Regions from separate parts of the Homo sapiens genome. Here region 1 is linked to region 2. Evidence: fine-mapped expression QTL. Tissue or cell type: aorta. Region 2 holds a variant in brackets; the other region holds the start of a gene. All regions are shown on one strand. Distances are from middle to middle.

Region 1 (8,186 bases), 26 kb before region 2:
ACGATGGCTCATGCCTGTAATCCCAGCACTTTGGGAGGCTGAGGCAGGCAGATCACCTGAGGTCAGGAGCTCAAGACCAGCCTGACCAACGTGGAGAAACGCCGTCTCTACTAAAAGTACAAAATTAGCCAGGGTGGTGGTGCATGCCTGTAATCCCAGCTACTTGGGAGGCTGAGGCAGGAGAATCACTTGAACCCGGGAGGCGGAGGTTGCAGTGAGCCGAGATCACGCCATTGCACTCCAGCCTAGGCAACAAGAGCAAAACTCCGTCTCAAAAAAGAAAAAGAAAAAAAAAGTGATTTGATTTCTGGCCTTTAATAAGTGCTTAATGAATCTTGGATGAATAAACGAATGAATGAACAAAGAAATGAAAGAATGAACCAGCCAACTGACCAGGACGATGTCCATAGAGGTCTACATGGGATTCCCTCACCTTGGTCTTGTTGTGTTCAACATTTCTATCAATGATTTGAATCCCAGACACACAAAGCATATTTACTATACTTGGAAACAGAACAAATCTGGGAAGATCATTAATGTAATAGATCACAGAAGAAAAATCCAATATGATCTTGCCAGGTTAAAAACAGGGCCAAGATGTACAGGCATCAGCCAAAGCCCTATGTATGAGTTTAACATGTCAACTGGACCTTGGGAGCCTCCTATTTTGAGGGTGATCGTGAAAGAGACTGGGAAGTGTTATATCCTTCCCCATCATTCAGCCTTCTCACAGAAGTTCCAAAGGCTATTTGGTGGTAAAACTCCTTTCTGCTTGCTAGTCCTCATCCTTTTTCCTCCTTTTATGGTATTTGACACTATTCTACACTGTTAACTTGATGCCCTTCACAGAACCTTTCTCGAATTTCATGATTCCACTTTGGTCTTATTTCCCTCGTTTTCTAATTTGTCCTTCTTTGTTTCTTTTACCCTCTTTTTAAAGTTTTTCCTTTACCTTTACATTTAAAAGGTAGTGTACCCTAAGCTCTAATCTTGGCATACTTGAAATCTGTATCTCTCCCTGGTTGTTTAACATTGATTTAAAATAGATTTTGTTGAGAACCCGCTATGTGCCCAGAAGTGTTCCAAGAGCTCTTAGAATACAGTGGAGAATAAGACAACAATTTCTGCCTTTAAGGAGCCTGTATTCTAGGAGGATGGGAAGTGATGAACAAATAAGTGAATAACAGTGTTGAGTCGTGGTTAAAGCTATGATGAAACTCAAATCCAGATTAAGGGGACCAGGAATGTCAGGGCTGCTATTTTAGACAAGAGTCAGGGAGAGTCCCCTGAGAAGATGGCATTTGAGCAGAACTGGGCTTCTTGTACTCCCAGGGCTGCCTCCACACTGAAGACTCCCGGATGCTGCTCTCTGGCCAGCTCCTCTCTTCTGGAGCCATATTCCTGAATGCCTCTTAGTCCCTGCAGGATGTCCTAAGAGCACCTTCAACCACGCTTGATAATCTCCCCTACCAAACTTCTTCCTTCTCTTTGGTTCCCCATATTGGTTCCCAGCATGACCATCTCCTCACTCACCCAAGCTAGAAACTCTAGCCTCCCCTTCAAATCCTCCTCCACCCCTACTCATACAGATCCAATCCAATGACATCTGGGTCCTCACTTCCTCCCCGTGCCATAGTTCAGGTTCACACTATCTCTTACTGGTACTGTTGCAGGAGACTCCTGACTAGTTTGCCAGCCTCTAGTCTCATACTCCACCCACCCTGTCTTCCACGTTACCAATAGAATGACCTTTGTAAAGCACGATCAGCTCTGCTCTTGAGCCTTCTATCTCTACCTACTGCCTCTAGGGCTAGCAAGGTGTTCAACCTACCTGGTTCCCAACCTACTGGCTCAGCCATCTCCCTTCAGTCCCTCTGTCAGAAAAATCACTTCCTGACCCTTTGACAGTACCCTCTTTTTCCTCTCATATGCCCTTCAGTTTTTCCTAGAACTCTTTCCGTTCCTCTTTCCTGCTTTTCCCTTCCCTACCCTACCCAGCAGGTTTCTAAGCATTACTGCAATAGCCAACTCAACTCTGCAAAGCTTTTTTCAAATTCTCTTCCCCCTCCATCCATTTTCTTTGTTGTGATGCCATAGTGCTTGTGGCAGGCAGGAGCACCCTGTTTTAGAAGAGTTTTCTGTGTCCCATTAGCCGTGGGTTACCTGGAGACAGGCATCGTCACTTGTGCATGTCTGTGCTGCTTGTAGATGTTGGCACTAGGGAGGTTACTTCATGCATGTTTACTGAGCTGGCTGCAATTATACAGAAGACTTACAAACATATAAGTCAAACCACGTGAAACTGCTGTTCTTCTTGGTCAATATCAGCAATTTCATATGTTTATTCTAATCTGTTTTGTTCAGTATTTTGTATTCCTGTTTTGGCTTTCAGAAGTGTTCTTACCTTCAACCAGACTGCCTTAGAGCATGGGGCTCAAAGAAATATTTTCAGCTCTGGAAGACATTTTCCATCCTACTTCTACATATAGAACTTTTCTGGCCAAAAATGGATGCATATCTCAGAAATGTAATAAGCAATACTCTTCTCTCTTCCTCTTGACAATTGTTTTTCAAATGGTTTATCATAAACATCAGTGAGATCTTGAGGCTGTTATAAAGTGATATAATGGTAATTTCTAGAATTGTAATACATTATCCTAGTGAAAAGAAAATGATGAAGTTGTGAATCAGGCAAAAGTGATGAATTGCTCATTTCCATGTAGTTTTTCAGGTGGAAAGTAGATGCAGGTATCAACTGGAGGATGTGTGAATATTTTGTCTAATGGTTTTGATCTCGATATAGAACTAGAGTTGTTCTTAAATTAAGAATGTCTTTCATATTCTGCCTTTTCACCAGCATCACTATTAAAATAATATTCTTAAGCAACAGCCAAAAAATTATTAGGATCTGCTGGTTCTATAATCAGATGTTTTTGCTGGACACTTTAAAAACCAATAACAGCTAATCACAGTGTCCTCTTTTGTGCTGAATTGAATTTTGTTTTGGTTTTAATTCTCATTTGAACTGCTGGGAAAGCAAGCCTGTTACATACCAACACTTGCCACCTTTCTATATTTGAATGGACCTAAGTAGTCTTTGCAAAAAATGTCTAAGACTGTCCTATCCGGACACACCATAGGGTTTTCCCATGGAAATAATTATATCACAAACGAATCTTTTTTCTAAAGTCTGTGGTTTTAGGCTGCCATACTTCTCAATCCCCTGACCAGGAGACAATAAAATTGGCTGGGGCCTTAATTTGAGGGAATACATATTTGATTGTGGGCGTGGTCTTCTAAGACAATGGTAAAGGGAAAAGCAAGATGTAAAATTAAACGTTGAAACAAGCTAAACTGGTTTTCAAAATCTTCTCGACTGTAACACATCTAGAAGTTCTAAATATAAGAAGGTTTGAGGGATTATCTAAAACCAAGGTATTAAAAGATCAGGTTTTTAGAAGATTTTGATTCAGTACCTTATACTTTTTTTTCAAGGAGTTGAGCAAGAAACCATCAAAACTTAGGAGAGTGATTTTAGGAGAGGGTGGTCTCCAACTTGTCTTTATGTTTGCTTCCAAGATAAGTGTTAAGCCCAACCAACTAGCAGACTATTCATGATCTGGGAATCCTATCAGTGGTCATCCCTGTATTTGACTTGAGTCTCTCTAATTTTTTATAGGGACGGCGAAGGCCAGTTGGTCAGCCAAATGCATAAAAAATGGTGCAGAAATTAGTGATGCTTGGAAACATGGCTCATAATCATGATAAAGGCTTATATGTTGGTATGGGTTGAGAATGTTGGCCTCATGGTATCTGGGTATGCAAGAAGGCAAATCATTATTGGTATACTAGCCTTTATGTTGAATATTTAGAGAGCTCTTGAAAACACCCCTTCGATTTGGAGTGAGGAATTCTAATGAGTAAAACTCCATGTAGAAATAACCATATCCGATTAAAAAACTATTTTGATTTTCATTCCAAGAAACTACCAAAATGTCAGCTCGATATACTTGTGAACATGTTATGCTTATTTTTAAATAAGGAAGGGTGCCTTTTTACAAATTAGGCTTGAGTTTCTCTTACTATCATATATATTAACTATAGACAAGGGAGTGGGTTCTAATAACAAATTGCTACATTGCTATCGTTAAATCCGTGTTTGAGTTTTCTTCCCTCTAATGTATTTTCTCCCCCTCTTTAATTTATATTTTTAAAAAGCAATGTACTTATCTAGAAATTGTATGAAAGACAAATATTTAAGAAAGTAAATAGAGACTATGGGCACGTCCTTTGAATATGTTTTGCCAGGGTCGAGGGGTAAATGAAATAAACTGATACATCATAAATGGACCACACAGGAAAGAAAGTGTCATGCCTATGCAAAGACATGCATTCTCCTTAGAGACGACATATATTGCTGTCGACCAACAAAGTCACGTGGTGGGAGGGGGCTCTTTTCTTTCTCCTTCACATCCCCTCCTCTGATGTCACAAATCTATTTTTTCCTGGGAGAATTAATTAGCATTCATTGGGTGTACTTGGCTAGAAGAAATGAGGTGGGGAGAAAGAGAGAGAGAGAGAGAGATCGAGATTGAGATCTTAAGAAAGAGAGCAAGGAGGAAGAGCCCGGTGGGGAGCAGGTCCTTCTCCCCCACCCCCCTACCCCCAACTCCCACTGGAGCCGCATTGAGACTGTAGGCACCACCGGGCGCCGAATGGCTGTTTTCTAACTGGGATCCTCGGTGACGTATGGCTGCCTGCCCCTTGGCAGCTGTCTTTATGGACCAGTAGGCAGAGCGAAATTGACGCTGACAAGACTTTTGCATCTTGGAAGGGACTGTAATCTACTGTAGTGAAGAACAGAGCCTCTCAATCAGACGGGTGTAAATAAGAGACGGAGGGGAGTCCAAAAGAAAAGGAAGAGGAGGAAAAACAAGTGTGTGTTGGGGGGAACAGGGGGAAAAGCATTTTTGGTGGATGGTATGAAGCCAGCCATGGAAACTGCAGCCGAGGAAAATACTGAACAAAGCCAAGAGAGAAAAGGTACCCAGCGCTCTGACAATAGCCTGTTTAAAGCTTTTCACTGGGGGGTGCTTAAAAAGGGTTAGCTGGGTTTTGTCTCTCTTTTAAAATGGCTCTGAGACAATCCCTATGGCATGGTCTTGCTTTCAGGGTTGATTTTTTTCCTGTGGGCTGATGTTAAGTTAATAGAGCAGCCTTTCTTCAATCCATTCCTGTTCCAAATCTTTCTACCGACGTGATATTTCATAGAGGGATGTCTATAGTTTGTCACCTTGGGCTGATGCATTGGGGAAACTGTCTTTTTTTATTAATATAATTAATCGTAACTTAGGTCTTGTGTCCTGCATGTTATATTCCAGGAACGTGGAATGTGTAGTTTTCTGCTAATGCTGAGGAGGAACTGGAGGGGCATGCATGTTAATTCTGCTTTGGTTCCGCTAATGCTGTAGTGATTTGGGCATTCTCTAATTTTCTTATTCTAATATGATTGCTCTTTCTTGTATCAGGCCCTGACTACGACATGTAATAATCATTTACAGTTGGAGCTTCAGAGAGGGGACATCAGCTCTGTCACCCAGTGCTGATGGAAAGGCAGGGCGGGGGATCTTCTGCTAATTATGACTTGGAGACTGGGGGGAAGAAAATTGATAAAGGTCCTATTTCTTAAAGAGAATCTTAGAACGTACCACAATTTTCATATACAGAATGGTTTTTTGGAGAATAAAGTGTTTTTGCAGTAAGAAAATGGCAGAAAGGAACTAAAATTAATCTCTTTTTTCTAAATAATGACTGATTTCAAGTTTGATGTCCCATAGAATCGGCTCAGCCACTGTTAGGTTAATGGATCTCACTGCATTGTAATTTTCCCTCACTCAAAGTCATAGACTGTCATAAATGCCCAAAAACATATTCTGTAACCGCAGTGGCTCTAATATAAAAAGCCATCATGCTAAGGTTATTTCTCACAGCCCTTGCGTCCACTGATAGTCACTAAAGAGTAATTCGCCAGTACGGGGACAAAACTTCGTTTTATTTATAAAGATACAGGCTGAACCATATGAAATTGCTGATAGTCAACCATTTTAAACCTACAAAAACGGCAATTACATGTACTTCAGCTTCACAGTATGCTGGGGTAAAGACTGCTTGTTTTTATATAAAATTTCTTTGGTACACAATAATATTTTATCCTAAACAGAGCAATTTTACTTTTTAAATTAATTTTTTTAGGTATCACACAATACACATAACATAAAATTTACCATTTTAAGTATACGATTCAGTGGCATTAAGTACATAGCACCTTAATTTTAAAATCGTTTGTTTAGTTCAATCCTCTTACCAAATCTACACCTCCCCACCAAAAACCCAGCCTGTATTTTCTTGTGTGTCTTTAAAAAAAAAAAATCTTCATCAATGACCAAATAGCTATAAGAGAAGCTCTTGGGAATATTTATCAAGATGAAGAAGTGAGATCAAAGTTTTTTCCATGATGACTAGAGACTAAGTTGATTGCATGTTGTCGGGGTATGATAATGTAATAGCATTGTCCCAAGGAAGCCTATCACGATTTTATCCTAAAATGATGATTTTACTTAGTACATACTTTTAATTTTTATTAATGTGGTATTCAACCATGGCAGATAAAACCGTTTTGGTCTTTGCAAAAAAATCCCTTTTTTAAATTTCTCTCTGAAAGGAAGCAAAGGTCATATAACCAATATAAAATCATTACTACACAACTGTGTATCTTATCACTTAGTCTTATGGACTGCTATTATTTTATGTCAATTAAATCTTATTTAATAACAGATCTACAGGTTGCTAGTACATCCCTGACAACCCGTATATGAAAAGTCATTAGTTGTGATTTTAGAGACAAAATTAGAAGCAAAAGATAATTTGTGAAGGAACTTTAAAAATTACCTAAATGTATAAACACTAGCTGCTTGTTAAATAATTCAAAAATATCACACTACCAGAAGCTAGTGTGACATGTATGGTACATGCTTGAATAAGAATACAAGCCAGGGGATTTGTTTTTCCTGATCTACAGCAAGAGGGGTTGTGATTGTTGTGTGACCCACCATAATTGTTGATCTGGAGGGTGGCTTATCTAATCTGCATTTAGATGAACAAGTTCATATGCTGGCTACACAAAATCAAAGCCCACACAAGACACTTTGTAGTTTCCCAATTTGCTCACCCATCATCATTAAGGTACACATAGGATAAAATGATAGCCACAAATGTTTCTGCGTGATTGTCACATCAGTATTCCTTCAGATTTAACTTTAAGTTTATTAAAAAATTATTTTTCCATTGAAATTAACATTTGAAAACTTGACATAATTATTTATAGAATGTGTTATATAATTCTTGAGCTGGTGGATCCGTTTTTTATGTTTTTCTTTTAAGCCTTTCAGCAAAGGATTTTATTCATTAAATTTAATCCTGTAAATTTTGTCACTTTACGCAGAGTTTTTTATGCACATATATATTTTTTTTCCTGTGTTTCTCCTTTCCCATCTGTTTTCAGTGGTTGGTGATGGAGTGATGCCTGTCTCTTAATTTGGGGCATTATTGCCCAATGGCTAATACCCAATAGCATGTGAATTAATATCTTTGGATAATTATTGCAGTGTCTATTAAGAACTAAGAATGTAAATTAAACTTAGCTTTATAAATTGACCTTGCTTTTCTAGTTGGGATCTTTCCTGGGAGTTTCAGCGGGACAACACAACCCAGCTATTGTGATTCACTAACTCCTACAAAGAGAGCTCTTTCTTTAAACTTAATCACAATGACTTTGTTTCTACTTTAGACAAAATTAATCCATGTCCTTAAAAAAGGAAAGCATTTGTGTTTTTTCAGTCTGATAGTTTTCATCACAGCATGCTACCAGATACCAAAATTCACAAGAGTATTTAGTAGATATTTAGGGATTTTTAAGGAAAACAAGCAGATTTTCTTAGATGGATGTAAGAAATGCCAAATTATTACAAATGATAGTTTTTAAATTAAAAGCATTAAAGTGTGAAGATTGAGTAAGCAGATTCACTGACATGGAATAAGCAGAGGAAATGAATAAGACAGAATCAAAAGAAATAGATCATGGAACCCAATAATAAAAAGATGGAGAGTCGGTTTCCATTGATTTCAGT
Region 2 (8,186 bases):
AAAGAAATTAGAACTGAGAAGTTTATTACTTAATAATAAACTTAGTCATTTAAAATAATAGCAAATCCATTATATGTCAACCTAAGTAATGTTTAGGAAAGATAACGATTTTCAAAAAGAAAATAATATTTTAGTGTGAGGAATAGGACTGTTTTACATTTTTGCAAATCTCTTTAATATCTGGCTTAACAGTAGACAGCTGGACTCTTACATCTGCCTCTGCATTCATTCAGAGGCATCTTGGGGTATCTTGCTTTGGTTGAAGTATATGAAGAAAACTCAAATTTCTCACAGGTATGTGCTTGGAGAATGGAGGAGTGTTTTAATGGCCTTTGCAGATAATTATGAAATTCTTCCTTGATACTACACCAAAATTCAGCAGCTAGTGGTTTCTTAAAGACTACTTGTAATGTGGAATCTGAAACCATATTGATGATATTTTTGTACTCTTTTCCACTAAAATTCATTGCTTGATCTTGCACTTTGATTGACTCTTATATTCAAGAATTATTTTCCCTTGGCTATTTGGAAAATATTGGTTCTCTGAGTTGTGCAGATCTTCCAGACGTTGACACATTTAATTAAACCATGTCAAAAAAATTTCATTGGTTAATGTCACCACCAATTTCATCAAGAAGTCTGGTAAGTATTTGGAAGCTGTCAGTCTCACTATGGCAGGTACAAGTTTTCCAAAATTGATTGGCAACAGATACTATCAGTTGTTTTCTTTGAAGTGACAAGCTGTTCATTTTTGGGAAAGTTTCTGCCAAATACTTAAGTCTAAAAAACTATATCTTGTCAGGCATTCTTTCAAGAAAGGGGGTGTTTGCCCCCAGAAAGGTACAAGTTTGGCTCATAACTCAGTTACATAAGAATGTTTCCTGCAGCCCACTGTCACACGCTGGTTTGTGGTAGAAGGGCTCTCTGCATCCTCTCACTCATTTCATTACACAAACTGTTCGAAAGGCACATACTCGGGGGTTGAGATTTAATCAAATTAATAATTTTTTATTGCATCGAGGACATTTGGAAGTGAAACTGGCTTTTTAATTTATTTTCTTGCGAGCGCGTGGTAGTGAGGAATGTGTTCCTGCTAAGTACACTATGGAGCCACTGCCCGATTCACGCTCAGGCATCAGCAGTTTTACTGTGCAAATGTCAAGCAGTGAAAAAAGTAAATAACATCTTGGTGCTATTATAAAAAGTTTTGGCTTCACAGTCCTCCTGCAAGGATCTTGAGGTCTGCCGGGGCTGCACAGACCGTCTTTGAGGGCCCACTCCTGGCTCAGAGTGAGACTGGTGGGCAGGCAGGATAGAATCTCTTGGGAGCTCAATGTCCTTTCCAGACCTGCCTGAACAGAATCTGCGTTTTAATGAAGTCCCGAGGAGATTTATACGCAGGTTAAAGTTTTCCTGTAGTCCCAGCTATTTGGGAGGCTGAGGCAGGAGGATGGCTTGAGCCCAGGAGGCAGAAGTTGCAGAGAGCTGAGATTGCACTGCTGCACTTGAACCTGGGTAACAGAGTGAGATTGTATCTGGGAAAAAAAAAAAAAAGAGAGAGAGAGAGAGAACCACTGCTCTTTAACAGAGGTCTGCAAAACTTTCCTTTAAAGGGCCACATAGTAAATACCTGTGGCAACAACTCAACCCTGCCTTTGTAGCTTGAAAGTAGCCATAGACCATATGTAAATGAATGAGCGTGGCTGTGTGCCAATACAACTTTATTTATAGACACAGAAATTTGAATTTTGTGTACCTTTCATGTGTCACAAAATAGGTTTTTTAATATATTCTAAGCGGTTAAAAAAGTAACCACTTGGAATCATGTCAAAATCATTCTGAGTTTGCAGGCCATGAGGAGAGCCAGATTTAGCTGGTGGGCCACAGTTTGCTGACCTGTGCTATATAACACTGAGTGCTCATTGAAGTTACCGGGGGAGCTTCAAAAAAACAAACCCCAACCCTCTAATTCCTGAGTCCCGTCCCCAATAAATTCTGATAAAATTGGTCTGGGGTGAAGCCAGGGCATCAGGATTTTCAGATGCTCCCCAGATTATTCCAATGTGTAGGAAAAATGGAGAACCTCTGCTCTATAATGTTTTCCAAGAAAGTTAGTTTTCTTTTAAGCATTTCTTTTTAAGATTTTAGAATTTGGCAGTGTCACCAAATGTCTGAGACCAGAATTATGTATTGTAACCTTAGAGCAGGGTTTCTCACTCTTGGCACTGTGAACCCAAAGCTATCTGAGATAGGTCTCAATCAATTTAGAAAGTTAATTTTAGCAAGCTTAAGAACCTGTGACACAGCCTCGGGAGATCCTAATAACATGTGCCTAAGGTGGACGGGGCACAGCTTACTTTTATACCTTTTAGGGAGACATGAGACATCAATCAATACCTGTGAGATGTACATTGGTTCAATCTGGAAAGGCAGGACAACTCAAAGGGGGTCAGAGGGTGGCTTGCAGGTTATAGGAAGATTTAAAAATTATGTAAAGACCTGGAATCCATAGAAAGGAATGTCTGGGTTATGATGATAAGGGGTTGTGGAGAGCAAAGTTTTATCCTGTAGGTGAAGCCTCCAGGTAGCAGGCTTCAGAGAGAATAGATTGTAAATGTCTCTTAGCAGATTTAAGGTCTGTTGATGTTAATGCTGGTTGGCTTTTCCTGAATTCCAGAAGGGAGGAGGGTATAATGAGGTATGTTTGACTCTCCCTTCCAATCATGGCCTGAACTAGTTTTTTCAGGCTAACTTTGGAATCCCCCTGGCAGAGACCAGGAATCTATTCAGATGGTTGGGGGTGGGGTGGGGGGTGCTTAGAATTTTTTTTTTTTTTTTTTTTTAAACGGAGTCTCGCTCTGTCGCCAGGCTGGAGTGCAGTGGCACAATCTCAGCTCACTGCCACCTCCAACTCCCTGGTTCAAGCGATTCTCCTGCCTCAGCCTCCCAAGTAGCTGGGATTACAGGCATGCGCCACCACACCCAGCTAATTTTTGTGTTTTTAGTAGAGACGGGGTTTCACCATGTTGGCTGGGATGGTGTCGATCTCCTGACCTCGTGATCTGCCTGCCCTGGTCTCCCAAAGTGCTGGGATTACAGGCGTGAGCCACCCCGCCCGGCCCAGAGTTTTATTTTTGGTTTATAGCACTATTGGCATTTTGGGTGTGACCATTCTTTATTTGGGGATGGGGGCTGTCCTGTGTATTCTAGGAGGTTTAGGAGCATCCCTGGCCTCTACCCACTAGATGCCAGTAGTGTCCCCCACCCTCAGTTGTAACAACCAAAACTGTCTCCAGACACCGCTAAATGTCCCTGGGTGGCAAAATTGCCTGGATTAGGAACCAGTGGTCTAAACGATGTAGATGTTTTTTGTGCTACTTCAGAGAATCTCCACATTGGAGCTATTGACATCTGGGGCTGGGTAATTCTTTGTTATAAGAGCATATTCTGTACACTGTGGGTGTTGAGCAGCATCCCTGGTCTCTACTCACTAGATGCCAGAAGCACCCTCTCCCCCAGCTTTGGCAACGAAAAATATCTCCAGATATTGCCAAATGTCCCCTGAGGGGCACAGTCACCCCCTGTTGAGAATTGCTTGGCCAGCTCAGAATCAGGGAAGCTTCTGTCCACTGACATTCACTGCTGCTTCTCTTAGGATTTTCGCCCTCTCCATTTTCCCATTGCTTGTTGCTTGAAAGTTGTAAAGCTTGGTTCCTGCATCTTTTCTTTTTAATTTTGTGGCTCATTAGGAATCAGTAATATAGCAAGGAAGGCCCCATGTAGAGAGGTAAGGGGGTGGTTTTTTTGTGTGGTGTTTGTTGGGGGGTGTTTGGGAGGGTGTGTGTGTGTGTGTATGTATGTGTGACATTCATTCCCTGGGGAAGAATCTGAGCCCTTGTTCCTGCCAGCCCTACGTCTGAGCCAGCATTAAATCTGCAGCCAAGATCACAGACAACTTGGGCAAATCACTTGGCCATTATGAACTCACAGCCATGGCAACGGCCATCCACAAGCCTGAGGACAAAAGGTGTTTTATTCTGTTGTTCTGCACAAAAGGTTCTAGGGATACTGGAGACAAAATAGCCTTTGAGACTTAAAGGCATTGATGTGTATTTTTTTTTTCCCTACTACATGGCTTATATTTAAACTGTCTTAGGCTAATGTACACTGTAATTTTTGTGTGAATCAAAACCTAAAATTCTTTTTATCCAGAGGCCAGCTAAATGAAGGCATAAGACAGCCCAACAGAGGCTTTTAGGGTTTGGTGAGAGGTATTGAGAATTACTAGTAAAATGTGCTAGAAAGCCTGGCATTCTAGCCTGGCCAACATGGCAAGACCCCGTCTGTACTAAAAATACAAAAAATTAGCTGGATGTGGTGGCATGTGCCTGTAATGCCAGCTACTAGGGAGGCTGAGGCATAAGACTCACTTGAACCCAGGAGGTTGAGGCTGCAGTGAGCGGAGATCACACCACTCACTCCAGCCTGGGCAATAGAGTGAGACTCTTTCTCAGGAAAGAAAGAAAAAAAAAAAACCTGGCATTGATTATTATTTTTTTACATGAATACATCACAGTCATCAAAAAAATGCTTTCCTTATTTTTTCTCGTTCACGTTACCCAATGTTGTCATTGCTGGTTTGAAGCTTGGGAAAATTCAGTCTGTGGATTTATAGGAGCATCCAAGAAAAGCACTGATCTTCCTTAGCTATCGTAAACTTTTAACAGCATGGTGTTCTGCTGGTACTTGGCACCACCCCTATATTTAAAAACATCAGCTTGCCTATGACTACTAAGGACAGCCTGAATCCCAGATCTACTTCCTTTTTGTGCACAGGCACTCCCAGCACTTTAGGGGGTGGTTGGAGTGTGTGTGTTTAGAAATCTGCTTTCTCAGGTGACTCAATTCCCGTCTTCTCAGACCCTGTCTATGGCATGACACTAAAGCATGAAAAATTCCAAGGTTAACAGTACTTGTTTGGCTCACAAAAATGCACTCTAGCTGCACTCTTTTCAAGA[T/C]GGCTGGACAACTTGGAACATTTTGTTTTTCTTAACTGTAGTCCTTGGAACTTGCCATTTGATTCACAAGTGACTGGAGGGTTATGGCCAAACCCAGTGGGCCACGTCTTAGAGAAAAAACATCACACACCATCGAATATGAAAGCAGGCACTTCAAACAGACTCAGGATGCCACACCTGAGACCGGGAAGATGCCACTGTTGACTAGAAATGGGCTTCTCAAATTTTCATGTGCACACAAATCACCCCAGAGGCCTTGTTAAAATGCAGATTCTGACTCAGTCTGGGGTCACTTCCAACATTCTTTATTTCTCACAAGTTCCTCCCTGCTGAAGCTGACACTGCTGGTCCAATGAACACACTTTGCAAAGCACATGGAATTGACAAATGACAAATGGTCCACTCATATCTTTTCTTGACCTCTGATAGTTTTCCTTGTTGCCCAGTAGAAGCTGCCAGCATCCAAGTTCAGCTCTTCTCAGCTACAGATCCATATATCCCTTCACATCATCCAGAGTGATCTTTCACAACCCCAATCTGTTTCCCATGCTTAAAAATGCTCCCTGGCAGACCAGGCATGGTGGCTCACACCTGTAATTGCAGCACTTTGGGAGGCCGAGGCGGGAGGATCACTTGAGCCCAAGAGTTTGAGAACAGCCTGGGTAACATAAGGAGACCCTGTCACTACAAAAAAATTAAAAAATAAAAAATGAGCTGGGTGCAGTGGCATGGGCCTGTGGTCCCAGCTACTTGGGAGGCTGAGGTGGGAGGATCGCTTGAGCCAGAGAGTTCAACACCGCAGTGAGCAGTGATTGTGCCACTGCACTCCAACCTAGGCAACAGAGCAAGACCCTGTTTCAAAAAACAAAACAAAACAAAAAAAAAACGCAGTGGCTTCCCATGATTTTGTTTTTTTTGTCTTTTTGTTTTTGTTTTTGTTTTTGTTTTGAGATGGAGTCTTGCTCTGTCACCCAGGCTGGAGTGCAGTGGTGCAATCTCGGCTCACTGCACCCTCCGCCTTCCGGGTTCACGCCATTCTCCTGCCTCAGCCTCCCGAGTAGCTGGGACTACAGGCGCCCACCACCACGCCCAGCTAATTTTTTGTATTTTTAGTAGAGACGGGGTTTCACCGTGTTAGCCAGGATGGTCTCGATCTCCTGACCTCGTGATCCGCCCGTCTTGGCCTCCCAAAGTGCTGGGATTACAGGCGTGAGCCACGGCGCCTGGTCAAGGCTTCCCATGATTTTGAAGATAAAGTCCAGAATTCTTAAGGTGGCCTGGAAAGCCCTAGGTGGTCTAGCTCCTATATTACCTATATCCTCTAGCTCCTAAATAAACACATTTAGCTTTTTCTTACTAACTTTTTGCAGCAGTTTTGGTTCCTCTAGGATGAGTGTGTGATATGTGACTAAATTGCCCAGTGTTCAAAGATATCATGCACACTGTGACCAGAGGTGGCTTCTATACTGACATAGAAGATACAGTGGAGAGTGATCCATTTATAGATTGTTGGATATCTACCACACATGCAATCTTAACCCTGAAGATAACTGGTCAACCAAGCTAGAATAAGCTCTACATCCAGCTGTATTATGTCCTATAAATTTTTCCCATATTTTATGTCACTAGCTTCTAGTCATGTTGGCTGGCACAGTCCGTAAGAGTTTTATCTGTGCCAGTGGAGCAAAGATGGTGATTTCTGTTCTATAGGAGCCAGGGTTCCTACAGCCACAAATAAAATCATCTGCTGAAAACCTAAGAGCATTGGCATCTGCTGAGAGAGCATGATTCATTGAAGTGATCCCCCAAATTCTTGAGTTCCTGGTTTTCCCTGCTGTTATAAAACTAGATCCACAGCATGAGGTATATACAGAGTCCTTGAGAGATATAAATTGGAGGGAAACTTTAGCTTTGATCTAGTATTGAATTTGGGATTGAACAGCATCATTCTTCTAACCCCACTTGGCTTTTTGAGCCTGGGAGAGCTGTGATATTTCTTTGGAATGCTCTAACCATTTGGATGAAAGACCGTTTGAAGTGGCAACTGTGGATTTGGAAGGATGAGTTCTATCGTTAAAGGGCGAGTGTGCTGCACCATAACACCTAACCCTAACTCCAAATGATGAAAAAGGGTGTGGGTTTAGTTTAAAAATATATATAGATGTATACATCTATATATACACACAGAGAATTAATGAACAATTTTATCTGGTTATATATCAGTGTCACCACATCAGCTGTTTAAGTATTCTGGATACTAGATCTTTCTGTAGAAGGACCCATCCAGTATGAATTATTTGCCCTTCTGATCTTCCCTGTCCCCCTTCTCTCCACTCTCTTTCCACTGGCTCTGCAGGGGTCTGTATCTTTGCCCCCATCATGCTGGACTATAATAATTGTGTTACTTGTCTGCCTGCAGTATTGGATTTATCTTGAAGCCAGAAAGGTATCTTATTTCAGTTTTGTGTACTTGGCACCCAGTAGGTCTTCACAAAATACTGAATTAATGAAATCCAACAGAAAACCCAGTTAGAACCCAGCTCCTGGGTTATAGAAAATCAAATATGTGACAATTCAAAATGTATCTTCCAAAGCAGTGTGTTCTGTGATGATGAAATGTCCTATATCTGTGTTGTCCAATACGGTAGCCACTAGTCCATGTGGCTTTTGAGCATATGAAATGTGGTTTGTGCAACAGAGGACCTGAAATTTTCATTTTATTTAATTTTAAATAAACGTAAATAGCTACATGTCTTAGTGGCTACCATTTTGGACCACACAGCCCCAAGGCCTCACATCTTTATCCTTTAAGAACCAGATACAACTTTGTTAGCCAGGAAAGCAGGCATTCATCTTTTTCTTAACATGATCATAGAGGCTGAGAATGTGGGGAGGTTGTGGATGATACAATACCCATGTCTGTTTTCTCTTTATAATGAGATACGTCAAGGCCAAGGATTCTAGTTTCTCTTAGTTTGGGAACCTGGAGAGAATTTGGACTTTGAGTTGCATTCCTCTCACCTCAGTCCCCAGAAAGTCATGTGACAAAATAAGATTGAGCTCTAACATCTCTGCTCACAAATCCCAAGTGTCTGAAGCTCTTTAAGATACTGACTTGCTAGTGAACTTGAACCATATTGTGCACTGGTTCCCTTTTTCTTTTTTTGA

Evidence for each region. PIP is the estimated chance that this variant, and not a neighbour inherited with it, causes the effect.
Region 1: GPM6B starts here. The variant in region 2 is fine-mapped to the expression of GPM6B in aorta (GTEx, PIP 0.99).

The regions. Positions count from the first base shown.
Region 1 is chrX:13,813,701-13,821,886 of GRCh38, reverse strand. It overlaps GPM6B (glycoprotein M6B), which reads left to right and starts at 4,794. Exons shown (of 8, transcript NM_001001995.3): 1 at 4,794-5,043. The coding sequence starts at 4,983.
Region 2 is chrX:13,787,555-13,795,740 of GRCh38, reverse strand. All of the region lies in intron 2 of GPM6B (glycoprotein M6B), which reads left to right. Among named protein-coding and RNA genes, the nearest start is that of GPM6B, 25 kb to the left of the region's middle. The variant T/C (reference allele first, on the strand shown) is at 5,019.